Regions from separate parts of the Homo sapiens genome. Here region 2 is linked to region 1. Evidence: fine-mapped expression QTL. Tissue or cell type: pancreas. Region 1 holds a variant in brackets; the other region holds the start of a gene. All regions are shown on one strand. Distances are from middle to middle.

The links. PIP is the estimated chance that this variant, and not a neighbour inherited with it, causes the effect.
Region 2: GIGYF1 starts here. The variant in region 1 is fine-mapped to the expression of GIGYF1 in pancreas (GTEx, PIP above 0.99).

What each region holds. Positions count from the first base shown.
Region 1 is chr7:100,665,022-100,673,021 of GRCh38, reverse strand. LOC105375429 (a long non-coding RNA gene) reads right to left here. Exons shown (of 3, transcript NR_133946.1): 3 at 6,596-6,920. Among named protein-coding and RNA genes, the nearest start is that of GNB2, 4.7 kb to the left of the region's middle. The variant A/G (reference allele first, on the strand shown) is at 4,564.
Region 2 is chr7:100,690,585-100,698,584 of GRCh38, reverse strand. GIGYF1 (GRB10 interacting GYF protein 1) reads left to right here and starts at 4,335. Exons shown (of 27, transcript NM_001375765.1): 1 at 4,335-4,475. RefSeq lists an enhancer at 2,426-3,229, silencers at 3,917-4,076, 4,517-4,616, 4,787-4,906, 6,669-6,838 and a cis regulatory region at 3,768-5,261.

The sequences.
Region 1 (8,000 bases):
AGCTGGGACTACAGGCGTGTGCCACCACACCCGGCTAATTTTTTGTATTTTTAGTAGAGACGGGGTTTCACGGTGTTAGCCAGGATGGTCTCCATCTCCTGACCTCGTGATCTGCCTGTCTCGGCCTCCCAAAGTGCTGGGATTACAGGCGTGAGCCACCGCGCCTGGCCCGACACTTATTTTTTAATTGGAGTACAGTGACGCGATTGTAGGTCACTGCCACCTCAATCTCCTCGGCTCAAGTGATCTTCCTGCCTCAGCCTCCCTAGTACCTGGGACCACAGGCGTGCCCCAGCCACCATGCCCAGCTAATTTTTAAATTTTTGGTAGAGGTGGGGTCTTGCTATGCTGCCCAGGCTGACATATGTTAAGTCTCACAATACTGGGAAATTAAGTGCTAACATTCTCCCCATTTTCTTTTCTTTTCTTTTTTTTTTTTTTGGAGACAGGGTCTCACTCTGTCGCCCAGGCTGAAGTGCAGTGGCATGATCTCGGCTCACTGCAACCTCCGCCTCCTGGGTTCAGGCGATTCTCCTGCCTCAGCCTCTGGAGTAGGTGGGATTACAGGCGCCCGCCACCATGCCCAGCTAATTTTTTTTTGTATTTTTAGTAGAGACGAGGTTTCACCATGTCGGCCAGGCTGGTCTCAAACTCCTGACCTCAGGTGATGTGCCCGTCTCGGCCTCCCAAAGTGCTGGGATTACAGGCGTGAGCCACCGCGCCCAGCCTTCTCCCCATTTTCTAATAGTGGAAAGAGACCTGAGGCTGCAGAGTTTAGATATGAACCCAGGCAGCCAAAACTTTACTGTACATTCCAGTTTATCTGTATGAGCCTCTAGATGAACCCCTTCCTCCAGGGACCTTGCCTGTAAAGGGACAAGAACGTAGGTCTAGGCCTCAGTTTCCACATCTGTTAAATGGGGATGTTGACAGCATCTGCCCTCCAAGTCCCGGATTCTTACTGAGAACCCCATCGATTGTGGAAATGCTTTGGGAAGTTCAAGGCAACGAATAGCCTTCACTGAGTCCTTGTAATTTGAAAGTATCAAAACACGCAGCCATAAGAAAGAACGAGATGGGGCTCACGCCTGTAATCCTAGCACTGTGAGAGGCCGAGGCGGGTGGATCACTTGAGGTCAGGAGTTTGAGACAAGCCTGGCCAATATGGTGAAACCCCGTCTCTGCTAAAAATACAAACATTAGCTGGGCGTGGTGGCACACACCTGTAATCCCAGCTACTCAGGAGGCTGAGGCAGGAGAATTGCTTGAACCCGGGAGGCGGAGGTTGCAGTGAGCCAAAATCACACCACTCACTGCACTCCGGCCTGGGCAACAGAGCAAGACTTTGACTCAAGAAGAAGAAAGAAAGACAAAAGAAGAAAAAGTAAAAGAAAGAAAAGGAGGGAAGGAAGGGAAGGAAAGAAAAAAAGAAAGGAAAGAGAAAGGAAGAGAGAAAAAAGAAGAAATCATGTCCTTTGCAGCAACATGGATGCAGAAAAGAGAGAGAGAGAGAAAGAGAAAGAAAAGAGAGAAGGAAGGAAGGGAAAGAAAGAAAGAAGAAACAAAAGAAAAGAAAAGAAGAAGAAATCGTGTCCTTTGCAGTAACATGGATGCAGCTAGAGGCTTTTATCCTAAGTGGATAAATTTCTGCAGGAACAGAAAACCAAACACTGCATGTTCTCACTTATAAGTAGGAGCTAAACACTGGGTACTCATGAACATAAAGATGGGAACAATAGACACGGGGGATTACTAGAGGGGGGAAGGGTTGAAAAACTACCTATTGGGTACTGTACCCCAGGTGACGGGATCAATTGTACCCCAAACTTCAGCATCACAAGATATACCCATGTACATGGGTACATTCATGTGCACATGAGTCAGAATCTAAAAAGATGAAATTATATTTTAAAAAGTATCAAAACATACTCTTCATTTAGTCTCTGTGAAAGACATTACAAATCACTTTTCAAAAACAATTGTTTTTTCTTTTTTCTTTTTTTTTTTTTTCTGAAATGGAGTCTTGCTCTGTCACCCAGAGCTGGAGTGCAATGGCACAATCTCGGCTTACTGCAACCTCTGCCTCTTGGGTTCAAGCGATTCTCCTGTCTCAGCCTCCCGAGTAGCTGGGATTATAGGAGCATGCCACCAGGCCTGGCTAATTTTTGCATTTTTAGCAGAGATGGGGTTTCATGTTGGCCAGGTTGGTCTTGAACTCCTGACCTCGTGATCTGCCCGCCTCGGCCTCCCAAAGTGCTGGGATTACAGATGTCAGCCACCGTGCCCAGCCTACAATTGTTTTTTCCAAATCGAATATGTTATGAACATAGTAGTTGTCTTTGTAATGGGTACACACACTCACACACACAGAATGATCTGCCTGGTGGGGCAGGGAATTGTAAACATGCCAAAGGGAAAATGAAAAAAGAATCCTGTAGGTTTTCATTATTTTAGGCAATTATGTCCATATCACTTACAAAGCTATTGCCAAATCTGTCTAAGGAAGCAGAGTTTGAAGGTGGGCCGGGGGGGACATCTGGGAGAAATTCGAAAATGGCATAACAGAGCTCTCAATATGAGAAACAAAAGCCCAATATTTTTTTAAAGAAAATATAAACAATCGTATTCGTAGTTAGATGCAAATTCTATTTATGCATACCTGCCAATTCAGTGACATATAAGCAATAGATAACAGATGTCAACTACACATGAGAATTTGGGAGGGACCTCAGAGATAATTACGTTGATTTCCTCAATCTGTAGATGGCCACGATGACTTCCCTAAAGTCACTTAACAACAAGCAGCGCAGGACTACAGCACAATTTTGTCAATCTCAAGAGGGCATGTGTGCTGCTTTGGTTTCTGTGCTAATAAGCTTTCCTGTTTTAACTCATTCCGTTGATATTTACTGAACCGGATGATGTATCAGGCACTGCCCTAGGCAATGAGGATGCAACCTTGAATGACAGGTGCACCCTCCTCATGGAGCTTGCAATCTATAGAGGAGGCAGATGGGCATTGAAATATGGATTAGGGTCAGGCGTGGTGGCTCACACCTGTAATCCCAGCATTTTGGGAGGCAGAGGTGGGCGGATCACTTGAGTCCAGGAGTTCAAGACCAGCCTGGGCAACATAGCAAGACTACGTCGTTAAAAAAAAAAGAGAGAGAAAGAAAGAAATACATGGTGGCGTGCGCCTGTAGTCCCAGCTACTCGGAAGGCTGAGGTGGGAAGATGACTTGAACTCCTGAGGCAAAGGTTGTGGTGAGCTGAATTTCTGCCACCGCACTCCAGCCTGGGTGACAGAGCCAGGCCCTGTCTCAAAACAAAACAAAACAAAACAAACAAACAAAAATGAAAAAATAACAGTGCTTGGCCTGGAGGTATTGTTTACTTCGAGCAGAACATTTGAGATGGAACATATTCTGGGAGGAAGATCAAGAGTTTAAGATTGGGAAGTTTTAGGTTTGAAGTGCCTATGGAGAAAATTTTTTTTGGTGTTTTTGGTTTTGTTTTTTTTGAGACAGGGTCTCACTCTGTCACCAAGACTGGAGTGCAGTGGCGCAATCACAGCTTGCTGCAGCCTCGACCTCCTGGGCTGAGATGATCCTCTCACCTCAGCCTCCCCAGTAGATGGAACTACTGGTGCACACCACCATGCCTGGCTAATTTTTTGTATTTTTTTTTGTAGAGACAGGGTTTTGTCATGTTGCCCAGGCTGGTCTCGAACTCCTGGCCTCAAGCGATCCGCCAGCCTCAGCCTCCCAAAGTGCTGGGATTACCGGTGTGAGCCACCGCACTCAGCCGGATCTCGCTCTGTCGCCCAGGCTGTAGTGCAGTGGCGCAATCTCGGCCCACTGCAACCTCTGCCTCCTGGGTTCAAGTGATTTTCCTGCCTCAGCCTCCTGAGTAGCTGCGACTACAGATACGTGCCACCAGGCCCGGCTAATTTTTTGTATTTTTAGTAGAGACGGGGTTTCACCGTGTTAGCAAGGATGGTCTCGATCTCCTTACCTCGTGATCCACCTGCCTCAGCCTCCCAAAGTGCTGGGATTACAGGCGTGAGCCACTGTGCCCGGCCTCTTTTTTTGTTTTTTTTAACTTTTATTTTAGATTCACGGGGTACGTGTGCAGGTTTGTTATATGGGTAAATTGTGTGACACTGAGGTTTGGAATACGATTGATCCCATCACCCATGTAATGAGCACGGTACCCAATAGGTAGTTTTTCTTTTTCTTTTTTTCTTTGAGACAGGGTCTTGCTCTGTTGCCCAGGCTGGAGTGCAATGGCACGATCTCAGCTCACTGCAACCTCCGCCTCCTGGGTTCAAGTGGTTCGTCTGCCTCAGCCTCCCAAGTAGCTAGGATTACAGGTGTGCACCACCACACCTGGCTAATTTTTGTATTTTAAGTAGAGATGGGGTTTCGCCATGATAGCCAGGCTGGTCTTGAACTCCTGGCCTCAAGTGATCTACCTGCCTTGGCCTCCCAAAGTGCTGGGATTACAGGCGTGAGCCACCATGCCTGGCCCCATTAGGTATTAATAGTTTTCAACCCTTGCCCC[A/G]TCTTCTTCCTTCTTCCCCCTAGTGGTCCCCAGTGTCTATTGATGCCGTCTTTATGTCCATGAGTACCCAATGTTTAGCTCCTGTTTACAAGTGAGAACATATGGTATTTGGTTTTCTGTTCCTGCTCTAAATTCACTTAAGAGAATGGACTCCAGCTGCATCCATGTTGCTGCAAAAAACATGTTTCTTTGTTTCTTCATTTTGTTTCTTTTTATGGCTGCATAGTATTCCATAACATACATGTACCATTTTCTTTATCCAGTCCACCATTGATGGGCACCTAAGCTGAGTTCATGTCTTTGCTCTTGTGAATAGTGCTGCAAGGAACATACGAGTGCATATTTCTTTCTGGTAGAAGGATTTTTTTTCTTTTGGGTAAATACCCAGTAATGAGATTGCTGGGTCAAACTGTAGTTCTATTTTTAGTTCTTTGAGAAATCCAGGAGAAATGTTTAATAGGTGGCTGTAGACACAGTCCTGGAATTCAGCAGAGAAATCTGGGTTGGAATAGAGCCCCAAGAGTGAGTGGCACATTCTAGCAGATGACGTCATAAAGAGGTGCAGGGAAAAGACAAGATGGCCTAAGACCAAGCTCTGAGGAACTCCGACATTTAGAGGTCAGGTGGAGAACAAGTTGCCAAAGGAGAAGCCGGCGAACTAAGAAGAAAATCAGGAGGATGCGGACTTCTGGAACCCAAAAGAAAAGAGTGTTCCAAAAAAGGAATGGGAAACTGTGCTGAAGGCTGCAGAGACATGAAGCAAGCCTGCCCTGAGAAGTGTGCAGTGGATTGGGTAGAAGCCACTGTAGCTCTGCCTACGGCATTTGCAATGGGTGAGTGAGAAATGATGCAGTGGAGAAAAACAACGTGGACCAGACTTTGGGTATCTCAGCTTGGCCGGGGACCATGTACAAAGCTGGTGCAGCAGTGAGAAGAGGAAGTGGAATCAAGATAGTCGGGGTTTTTTAGGCCGGGCGCGGTGGCTCATGCCTGTCATCCCAACGTTTTTGGGAGGCTGAGGCAGGAGGATCGCTTGAGGTCAGGAGTTCGAGACCAGCCTGGGCAACATGGTGAAACCTCATCTCTACTAAAAATACAAAAAATTAGCCAGGCATGGTGGCGTGTGCCTGTAATCCCAGCTACTCAGGAGGGAGGCGGGAGAATTGCTGGAACTCAGATTACAGGGAGTCGAGATTGCACCACTGCACTCCAGCCTGGGCGACAAGAGCGAAACTCCATCTAAAAAAAAAAAAAAAGATATGTATATTTTTTAGGCTGGGCGTGGTGGCTCGTGCCTGTCATCCTAGCATTTTGGGAGGCTGAGGCAAGAGGATCGCTTGAGGCCAGCTTGCACAACACAGCAAGATCTCATCTCTACAAAAAAAATTGTAGAAACCCTGTCTCTACAGAAAAATTACATATATATATATATATATTTTTTTTTTTTTCCTTTTGAAACAGAGTCTTGCTCTGTCACTCAGGCTGGAGTGCAGTGGTGCTGCGATCTCGGTTCACTGCAACTTTCACTTCCCAGGTTCAAGCAATTCTCCTGCCTCAGCCTCCCAAGTAGCTGGGATTACAGGCATGTGCCACCACGCCCAACTCATTTTGATATTTTTAGTAGAGACAGGGTTTCACCATGTTGGCCAGGCTGGTCTCAAACTCCGGACCTCAGGTGATCCAGTCGCCTCAGCCTCCCAAAGTGCTTGGATTAGAGGCATGAGCCGCCGCGCCTGGCCGTTATTTGAGTTTTGATGAGAGCTACTGGAGCTAATTTAGATGGTAATGAGGAGGGCAGGAGGAAAGAGAGAGGAAAAAGAAGTTGGCCAGATGCAAGGAAGGACAGAGTTGCCAGGTGATGACCAATGAGTAGCCAACTTATCTGAGCAGGCAGGACCCTCGAGAGCAAGTGGCGGATGTGGCTCTGATGGGTCACAGGGCCTCCTTCCTCTACCTCTTCTGGCTTCTTAGCATCTCCTCCTCCTCAGGGCACTCTGCAAACATTGTTTTTCCCAGAATACTGACTTTGGCCTCCTCTGCTCACTCTCCATGTTATTCATTGGTGACTTCATCCATTACTGTCTCCAGCCCAGATGTCTCTTCCCCGTGTGCCGACTTGGTGTACATCCAATGGCTGACTGAATATCCCCACTTAGATGCCCGTGGACAGTGGCATGCTGGCATCCGCTCATGCCAGGTCACGAGTGCCCATTGTACACCCAGCTCCTTATTCAGTGAAGGCATCTTGGTAGCAGAAACTTGAAGAGCTGGGCGCGGTGGCTCACGCCTGTAATCCCGGCAGTTTAGGAGGCCCAGGTAGGTGGATCACCTGAGGTCAACATGGTGAAACTCCGTCTCTACTAAAAAATACAAAAAAATTAGCTGGGCGTGGTGGCGGGTGTCTGTAATCCCAGCTACTCAAGAGGCTAAGGCAGGAGAACCGCTTGACCCCAAGAGGTGGAGGTTGCAGTAAGCCGAGATAGCGCCATTGCACTCTAGCCTGAGTGACAAGAGCGAAACTCCATCTCAAAAAAAATAAAATAAAATAAAATAAGATAGTAGGAACTTGAACTCAGCCAAGGTGTGACTGTTTACGTCATGGACATTGGCAAATGCTTCCGATCAGGGCTCCCCCTTTTTGAAGAGCTGGTTGTTAGGAATGGTGGCTCACCACCAGGAGTTTGAGACTAGCCTGGGCAACACAGCGAGACCCCATCTTCAAAAAAAAGATTAAAAATTATCCAGGTTTGGTGGCATGCCTGTAGTCCCAGCAACTCAGGAGGCTGAGGTGAGAGGACTGCTTGAGCCCAGAAGTTGGAGGCTGCAGTAAGCTATGATCGCACCACTGCACTCCAGCCTGAGTGACAGAGCAACACCCTGTCTCAAAACAAACAAACAAAAAACCATTTACTACACACCACTGTTCACAGACATTTCACATTCAACATATTCAAAACTAAGTTAATCATCTTCCCCTGAGCCCAACCCTGCCCAACCTTACCCCTTCCCTGAATATCCTGGCCCAGTTGACAGCACCAGCACCCACTCAGATATTTCCCATGCCTTCCCTCCCCATATCCAAAGGATGGTCAGTTAGGGTATAGGCGAAGCGGCTATAACAAAGAATTCCCCAAAATTCAGTGACTTAACCTCAAAATAGATACTCCAGGACTGTGGGGACATCTCTGCCATCTTTTTTTTCCTTTTGTTTTCTTTTTGTTTTTGTTTTTTTTGAGAGGGAGTCTCGCTCTGTCATCCAGGCTGGAGTGCAGTGGTGCGATCTCACCTCACTGCAACCTCCGCCTCCTGGGTTCAAGTGATTCTCCTGTCTCAGCCCCTGAGTAGCTGGGATTACAGGTGTGTGCCACCACACCCGGCTAAGTTTTGTATTTTTAGCAGAGACGGCATTTCACCATGTTGGCCAGACTGGTCTCGAA
Region 2 (8,000 bases), 26 kb before region 1:
ACATTTCATCAAAGGAAAACACTGAAGAGGAATCTGCCATTAAAAAAAAAAAAGTGGGGGCGGGGCGGGCGTGGTGGCTCATGCCTGTAATTCCAGCACTTTAAGAGGCCAAGGCAGGTGGATCACGAGGTCAGGGGATCGAGACCATCCTGGCTAACACGGTGAAACCCCGTCTCTACTAGAAATACAAAAAATTGGCCAGGCGTGGTGGTGGGTGCCTGTAGTCCCAGCTACTCGGGAGGCTGAGGCAGAAGAATGGCATGAACCCGGGAGGCGGAGCTTGCAGTGAGCCAAGATCGTGCCACTGCACTACAGCCTGGGCATCAGAGGGAGACTCCGTTTCAAAGAAAAGAAAGAAAGAAAAAGGGCCAGGAACGGTGGTTCACGCCTGTAATCTCAGCACTTTGGAAGGCTGAGGCAGGCAGATCACCTGAGGTCAGGAGTTTGAGATCAGCCTGACCAACATGGCAAAACCCATCTCTACTAAAAATACAAGACGCTTGAACCCGGAGGAGCGGAGGTTGCACCACTGCACTCCAGCCTGAGCAACACAGCAAGACTCTGTCTCAAAAAAAAAAAAAAAAAAAAGAAAAGAAAAAGAAAAGAAAGGCAGAGGCTGGCTGTTTGGTCTGCGTGAGACCACTCTTTCATCTCCATTAACCTTCCAAACAAATCTCTTTGTTTAGTTAAAAAGTTTGCAAATTTAGAACACAGACCAAGACATTTTACAGAGCAGCACCTGAACAAACAAAAACACATTAGCTCCAAATGATTTCTTTATTTTGAGATGGAGTTTCGCTCTTGTTGCCCAGGCTGGAGTCCAATGGCGTGATCTCTGCTCACCGCAACCTCCGCCTCCTAGGTTCAAGCGATTCTCCTGCCTCAGCCTCCCTAGTAGCTGAGATTACAGGTACGTGCCACCACGCCTGGCTAATTTTGTATTTTTAGTAGAGACGGGGTTTCTCCATGTTGGTCAGGCTGGTCTTGAACTCCCAACCTCAGGTGATCCACCTGCCTCAGCCTCCCAAAGTGCTGGGATTACAGGTGTGAGCCACCATGCCCGGCCAATTAGGTCCAAGTGATTTCTTTGTAATTTTTAAATTCTTCATGGGAGACTCACAGTTCTTTTTTGTTTTTTATTATATTTTTTCACTTTTCTCTCTTTTTGAGTCAAGAACTCATTTTGTTGCCCAGGCTTCTGGGCTCAAGGAAGGACAAGGTTTATTAGCAGCATGAGAACTGACTAATACAATCACGGTGGAAGACCAGAGGGGTCTCCCTGGATCTCCTGGACACCAATGTGTGACTTTGGACAAGTAATCCCCACCAACTGTAAAGTGTGAACACTGATGCTGAAGTCAGCAGAAATTAAAGCCTATAAACTCCCTCTTTGAGAAAGGAAGCTAGCTGGCAGGGCACGGTGGCTCACGCCTGTAATCCCAACACTTTGGGAGGCCAAGGCGGGAGGATCACTTGAGGCCAGGAATTTGAGACCAGCCTGGCCAAAACGGTGAAACTCCATCTCTACCAAAAATACAAAAATTAGCTGGGCATGGTGGCGCCTGTCTGTAGTCTCAGCTACTCAGGAGACTAAGGTGGGAGGATCACTTGAACCCAGGAGGTGGAGGTTGCAGTGAGCTGAGATCACGCCACTGTACTCCAGCCTGGGCGACAGAGCGAAACTCCGTCTCGAAAAAAATTAAAATATTAAATAAAATATAAAAACAGACAGCAGGACAGGCACAGTGGCTCATGCCTGTAATCCCAACACTTTGGGAGGCCAATATGGAAGGACTGCTTGAGCCCAGGAGTTCGAGAACAGCCCAGGCAACATAGTGATACTTCAGTCTGTACAAAAATTTAAAAGTAAAAAATAATAGCTGGGCCAGGCACAGTAGCTCGTGCCTGTAATCCCAGCACTTTTGGAGGCTGAGGCAGGTAGATCACCTGAGTTCAGGAGTTCGAGACCAGCCTGGCCAACATGGTGAAACCCTGTCTCTACTAAAAATACAAAAATTAGCCAGGCATGGTAGCACACACCTGTAATCCCAGCTACTTGGGAGGCTGAGGCACGAGAACTGCTTGAACCTGGGGTCGGAGGTTGCAGTGAGCTGAGATCACGCCACTGCACTCCAGCCTGGGCAACAGGGTGAGACTCTTTCTCAAAAAAAAAATAAATAATAAATAATACCCGGGTATGGTGGTGTGCCACTCCCTGCAATCCCAGCTACTCGGGAGGCTGAGGAGGGAGGATCACTTAAGCCTAGGAGGTCGATGCTGCAGTGAGCTGATTGTGCCACTGCACTCCAGGCTGGGCAGCAGAGCAAGACCCTGTCTCTTAAATAAATAAAATAGTTAAAAAAGGAAAACAGACAGGAAAACTCCAAGTGCAGAGAAGCCTAGTGGTACTTGGTGGGGGAAACAAAAGTTGTTCCAGGTATAATAGTTCCTGAAGTCAACACTCTATCATGGCAAGACACCAGGCACTCAAATTCCAAGTCATGAACTTACCTTTTCCTTGTTTTGAGGATTACATTGTGTTGGGCGACAGCTCTTTTAGGCTTCTGGGAAGTAAGGTATACATTCTGGAGTAACTTCCAAAGAAAAAGGTGAAAGCATACGCGGAACTTTTGAGCCTTGAAAAAGTTCAGCGAGTCATTCTTGAAAAGTCCTTTTTTTAAACAAAGGGGGTTTCAGTCACCTCACATTTGCATAGCAGTTTCTCTCTTGTCAAAGCCTTTCACATTCACTTATTTTAATTCTTACAGCACTCAAGGAAGAGTGTGGAGTTGGGGGTCGGGGGTTGGGTGCAGAGCAGTGTTAACATCCTTCTGTAAGAGAAACGGAGGCTTTTGAGAGGCCAGGCGTGGCGGCTCATGCCTGTCATCCCGGCACCTTGGAAGGAGGATCCATTTGGGTCCAGGAGTTCCCGGCACTTTGGAAGGAGGATCATTTGGGTCCAGGAGTTCAAGACCAGCCTGGGCAACATGGGGGAAACCCTGTCTCTACAAAAAAAAAAAAAAAAAAAAAAAAAAAGCTGGGCGTGGTGGTGTGCCCTGGTAGTCCTAGCTACTCAGGGTGCTTGAGGCAGGAGGATTGCTTGAGCCCAGGAGGCGCAGGATGCAGTTAACCGTGATCGCGCCACTGCACTCCAGCCTGGGCGACAGAGCAAGACTCTGTCTTGGAAAACAAACAAACAACAAATACAATAAATTAAAAAAATTAGTTGGGTGTGGTGGCACACAGCTGTAGTCCCAGCTACTCAAGAGGCTGTGGCAGGAGGATCCCTTGAGACCAGGAGTTCAAGACCAGCCTGGGCAATGTTATGAGACACGCCACCCGCCCAGTCTTTACAGAGAATAAAAAAGTTATCTGGGTGTGATGGTGCACACCTATAGTCCCAACAATTCAGGAGGCTGAGATGGGAGGATCGCTTGAGACACGGGAGTTGGAGGCTGCCGTAAGCCGAGATCGGGCTAGTACACTGCAGCTGGGGCAACAGAGTGAGACCCTGCTTCAAAAAAATAAATAAATAGGGGCCGGGCGCGGTGGCTCACGCCTGTAATCCCAGCACTTTGGGAGGGCGAGACAGGCGGATCACTTGAGTGGTCAGGAGTTCTAGACCAGCCTGGCCAACAAAAATAAGCCAAACGTGGTGGTGTGTGCTTGTAATCTCAGCTACTCGGGAGGCCAAGGCATGAGAATCACTTGAATCCGGGAGGCGGAGGCTGCAGTGAGCCGAGATCGCGCCACTGGACTGCAACCTGGGGGACAGAGCAACACTCTGTCTCAATAATTAAATAAATAATTAAAAAAATAAAGAGGCTCCTGAGAGTCAACTTATTTGCCTGAGCCACTTATTTCACACATCCCAGGACGCCTGATGAAGGGTTCTGGATTTTATTGTCTCCTGTCATCCAGGCGGGCTTCCTGGAGGAAACCGGACCGCCAGGGAGGCCGCGGCCTCGGTCCCAGAGGTCGCGCGTCGCGGGGCCGGGGGAGGTGGGGGAGAGGAGGCCGCTCTGGGGCCGATCCCGCCCGCAGCTGGGGGCCCCCGTCACGTGACCAGCCGGGCGCCCAGGTCACGTGTCGGGGCGGGGAGGGGGGGGGCTGTCGGGGGCGACGGGCGTCCGGGCAGTGGCGCGCGCGGCACGCGAGCAGCGCACGAGGAGAGGTGGCGCGGGCCGGAGCCGCGGAGGGAGGCGGCGGCGGCGGCGGCGGCGGCGGCGGCGGCGGCGGCGGCGGCGGCGGCGGCGGCGGCGGCGGCGGCGGTGGAAGGGGCGGCCCCGCGGCCCCGCGTCCGCGTCACGTGGTGCGAGGCGGGCAGCCATCTTGCTACAAACACAAACACAGAGGAGCGGCCGCCGCGGGAGCGCCAGCGCCCCCTCCCCCGCTGCTAGCCGCCGTCGCCGTCCCCGGCCCCCGCCCGCCGCGCGCCGCCCACGCCCCGGGACCGGACCCTCGCGCCGCCCGCGGTAAGCGCCCAGTGGCCCCGCGGCCCCCGGCCCGCAGCCCAGCCCCGGGGCAGGCCCGCCCCCGACGCCGCGGCGGCCGCGCCGAGCCCGCGAGCTAGAGAAGCGCCGGAGCCAGCGCGCGGGCCGCCAGCGAGGACCCTCCCCCGTCTCCTCCCCGAGGCCGCCGCAGCCCGGTGCGTCCTCCCGCTCTCCCGCCCGCTCCGGCCCATCCCCGCCGCCGGGACCCTCCCCCAGAGCCGGCCAGCCTCGGGGAGGCCCCGGGAGGCCGGCGCCCGGCTTAGGGGGCGACCGCTCGCCCCCCTCGCACCTGGCGCCCCTCCCTGAAGGGCACGCCGTCCTCCCGGGCCGGCGCGCTGCCTTCCACCCCCGCGCTCCTAACGGTCGCCCCCGGGCCCCTGCCAAGCCCTGCCCTGGGCCGCCTGGGGGCCCCCGACCCTAGCGTCCTAGGGTGGCCGGGCCCCGCGCTTCCCGGAGTTCTCCCCAGCGCGCCTTTGGGTTCCCCTCGGAACGAGCTGGGCCTTGCGGTTCCCCAGGTCCAAGCGTTCCACGACTTTGGCCAACATGGAAGCCTTGCCCTCCACCCAGGCACCTCGCCTGGGTCCTCCTCACCTCTGTTTCCTTTCGCTCCGGCGATCTTAGTGCTGGGTCATTGGGGTCTCCTTCTTCCCAGTTGCTCGGCCGCGGGAAATACCTTCCTTAGCAGAGACTGCTTGTCCTCCCCGTCCCAGGCCAGGCCCTTCTCAGCTCATGCCCCTCCGTGCAGCAGCTCCCTGGCCACAGCTCTCACACTTTGCCTTAAAAAAAAAAAAAAACAAAAAAATTTCCGAGTAACTTTTTAAAAGCCCCTCGTCTCTCTTCTCTGTTATACAGTCATTACTCGCATTCCCGGTCAGACTCCAGGTCTGTTGCATCCTAGTGCTAGGAACTAGGAGATGCTACATAAAGACTTGTTAGCTGGATTGGATTTTTTTTTTCCAGCCACCCAAGCCTTACTTCCCTCCTGCCTCTCAAAGTGTCGTTCTGGAAGATCGTCAGCTTTCCCACCCTCTTGTGCACTGCCTCTTCGAGTCTATATAGAAGTTTCAATTTAGAACCCCGCCAACCCCTCGCCTTTGGCATGGAAACACCATCGGTGGTACCAGTAAGGGTCTCTCCTTTGCTGCCGACATGGGGGATTTGGGGTTCTTTCTCCTTCCCATCTTTCCTGTGCCCTTTGCAGACCTAGGCTAGCCACCCTCCACCAGGCTAGCCAGCTCCAATCTGATTTTCTTAGATTGTAGGTCTTGGTCCCCCAGCGGTCTGTCGTGCCATTGGGAAGGATTTGAGGGTAGACCTGGCCTTGGTGTCCCTGCCATTGCCTGGGGACCAGGGGCCCTGAGGGTCCCACGTGGTGGTTAGTCAAGTGGACCATGTGCTTAAACTTCTGGACTAGCTTTTTCTGCTGTTGGACACATCAGTCTTGTGTTCGTGATCTGATGCGTTAGCCCTAACTTTTACATCTGCTATTGGAATTTGGGAATTAAAGAAAAATAGCCCACTTTAGAGGAGAGAAGATGAGAGGAGGAGGCTAGATGAAGGATGTTGAAAGTCTAACAAATGTAAAATGGCTTCAAACTCACAGAATAATGCTTGCGAGTTTGGGATGGTTACTGCTACCGTGCGCACCTCCAGTCTTGCATAGTGTCAAGGATGTCGGGGCACGCTGTCGGAGCAGCTTCCTCCTTCTTTTCCCTGGCTGGAGCCCAAGGCTGGGCAAGTGGGCAAAAGGGATCACAGGAGGTAAAGAGTGAAAATCCTTTGAAAACTGTTAACTTGTAGACAATTGCCAAGCGGTGGTGTGATTTGCTGGGATGGCTCAGAGAGGAGAGAGCTGGGATAACCGACCAGCCGCGAAGAATGCGGGTTTGCATCTCTTTTTTAAGCCTCAGCGTCCTCACCCTACCACGCTTGGAGAATCTCCATCCTGAGAAAGGGCCAGGTCCCCTCCAGCAGGCCTGGGGCTGGGCGGTTGTTCCAGTGTTGAGGAATTGGGGACTGTGCTTCTGTTTAAGTGGCTCTGTTCTGTGCCAAGGCACAGTGCTCTGTGTTGGAGCTAATTTTAGGGGTGATGGAGTGAGGAGATAATGTTCTTAGCTGAATGTGCACTGGGACCGCCTGTTCTCTGTCTTTTCTTTCTCTCTTGAGTTCTGAGCCCCAGAGAGCAGGCTCCCTTTCCCGCGCGCCCTGGCGCCTACTGGAGCACCCGGGCCCAGCGTGTCCTCGCCCCTTGTCTCCGGCAGGGGGCAGTCTTTCAAAAGCATTGATTCAGATGCTGGGGGAGTGAGGGTAGACAGGCCCGAGAAAGAGAAGGGGTGGGGAAGGGGCGAGGAGCCGAAGTAGGCCGAGGCTTGAGGGCAGGGCCAGGGCGGGGGACAGGCTGGAAGGGGCCTGTGAGAAGGAGACCCTGAGCTGAGAAAGCTCAGCCGGGTAAGCTGAGACGGGCAGGTGGCAGTACCCCAGCCCCCGCCACCTCCTGCTCTTACCTTCATTGGACAGGGATCAGATACCTGGCCCTGAGAGCTTGCAATAGACAAACTTAGGCAGTTTTTCTTAAAAAAAAAAAATCTATTCTTTTCTCAAAGATTTTCTCCTGGCAGGATTTCAGATTTCCCTCGTGGGACAGTGTAATTAGGGAATGATGTCCCTGCTGTTCAGAGAGGAGAATGACCCAGCGTGCACACACCTGCCTTCCCTTGCCTTCCCCTTGGCCCAGTAGACCCCCAAGGGCTGTGCCCATGCTCGTGGCGCAGAGGAGGGTGTCTCAGCACTGGCGCACTTGGTATCTGGAGTCACATAGCTCTTGGCTGTGGGGCTGCCCTGTGCACCCCCTGCCCAGTGGTGACAACCCAGAATGTCTCTAGACTTGGCCAAGAGCCCCCTGAGGAGCAGAGGTGCCCCCAGTCCAGAACCTGTTGGAGGGTGGGAGCCCCATGGTGGCCTGCAGGTGTGCCACTAGTTCCTTTAGTCCAAGGAAGGGGCCAGGCACCATCAGCTTCCGGCACCAGACCCTGCTGTGGGGGTGCCTAGAGAGTTAACCTCACTCTCCTGGTTTCTTCCCAAGAAGGCGGGTGGCATGGGCTTTTTCCTGCTCTGGGCCTGCTCTCTCCCCTGTCTTGGTGTCGCTGTCCTCAGTCTGCATGAACCATTCCCCCTTTGTGTGCCCCTTGCAGCCAAGACACAGCCAGGATGGGTGACTTGAGCCGGAGGCACCTAGGAGAGCTGCCCTTGCTGCGCCTGGCAGGGGGCAGTGTGAGGCCATCGCTTTAAATTTTTTTTTTTTTTTTTTTTTGAGACAGAGTCTTGCTCTGTTGCCCAGGCTGGAGTGCAGGGGCGCAATCTCAGCTCACTGCAACCTCCGCCTCCTGGGTTCAAGCGATTCTCCTGCCTCAGCCTCCCGAGTAGCTGGGATTAGAGGCACCTACCACCAGGACTGGCTAATTTTTGTATTTTTAGTAGAGACAGGGTTTTGCCACGTTGGCCAGGCTG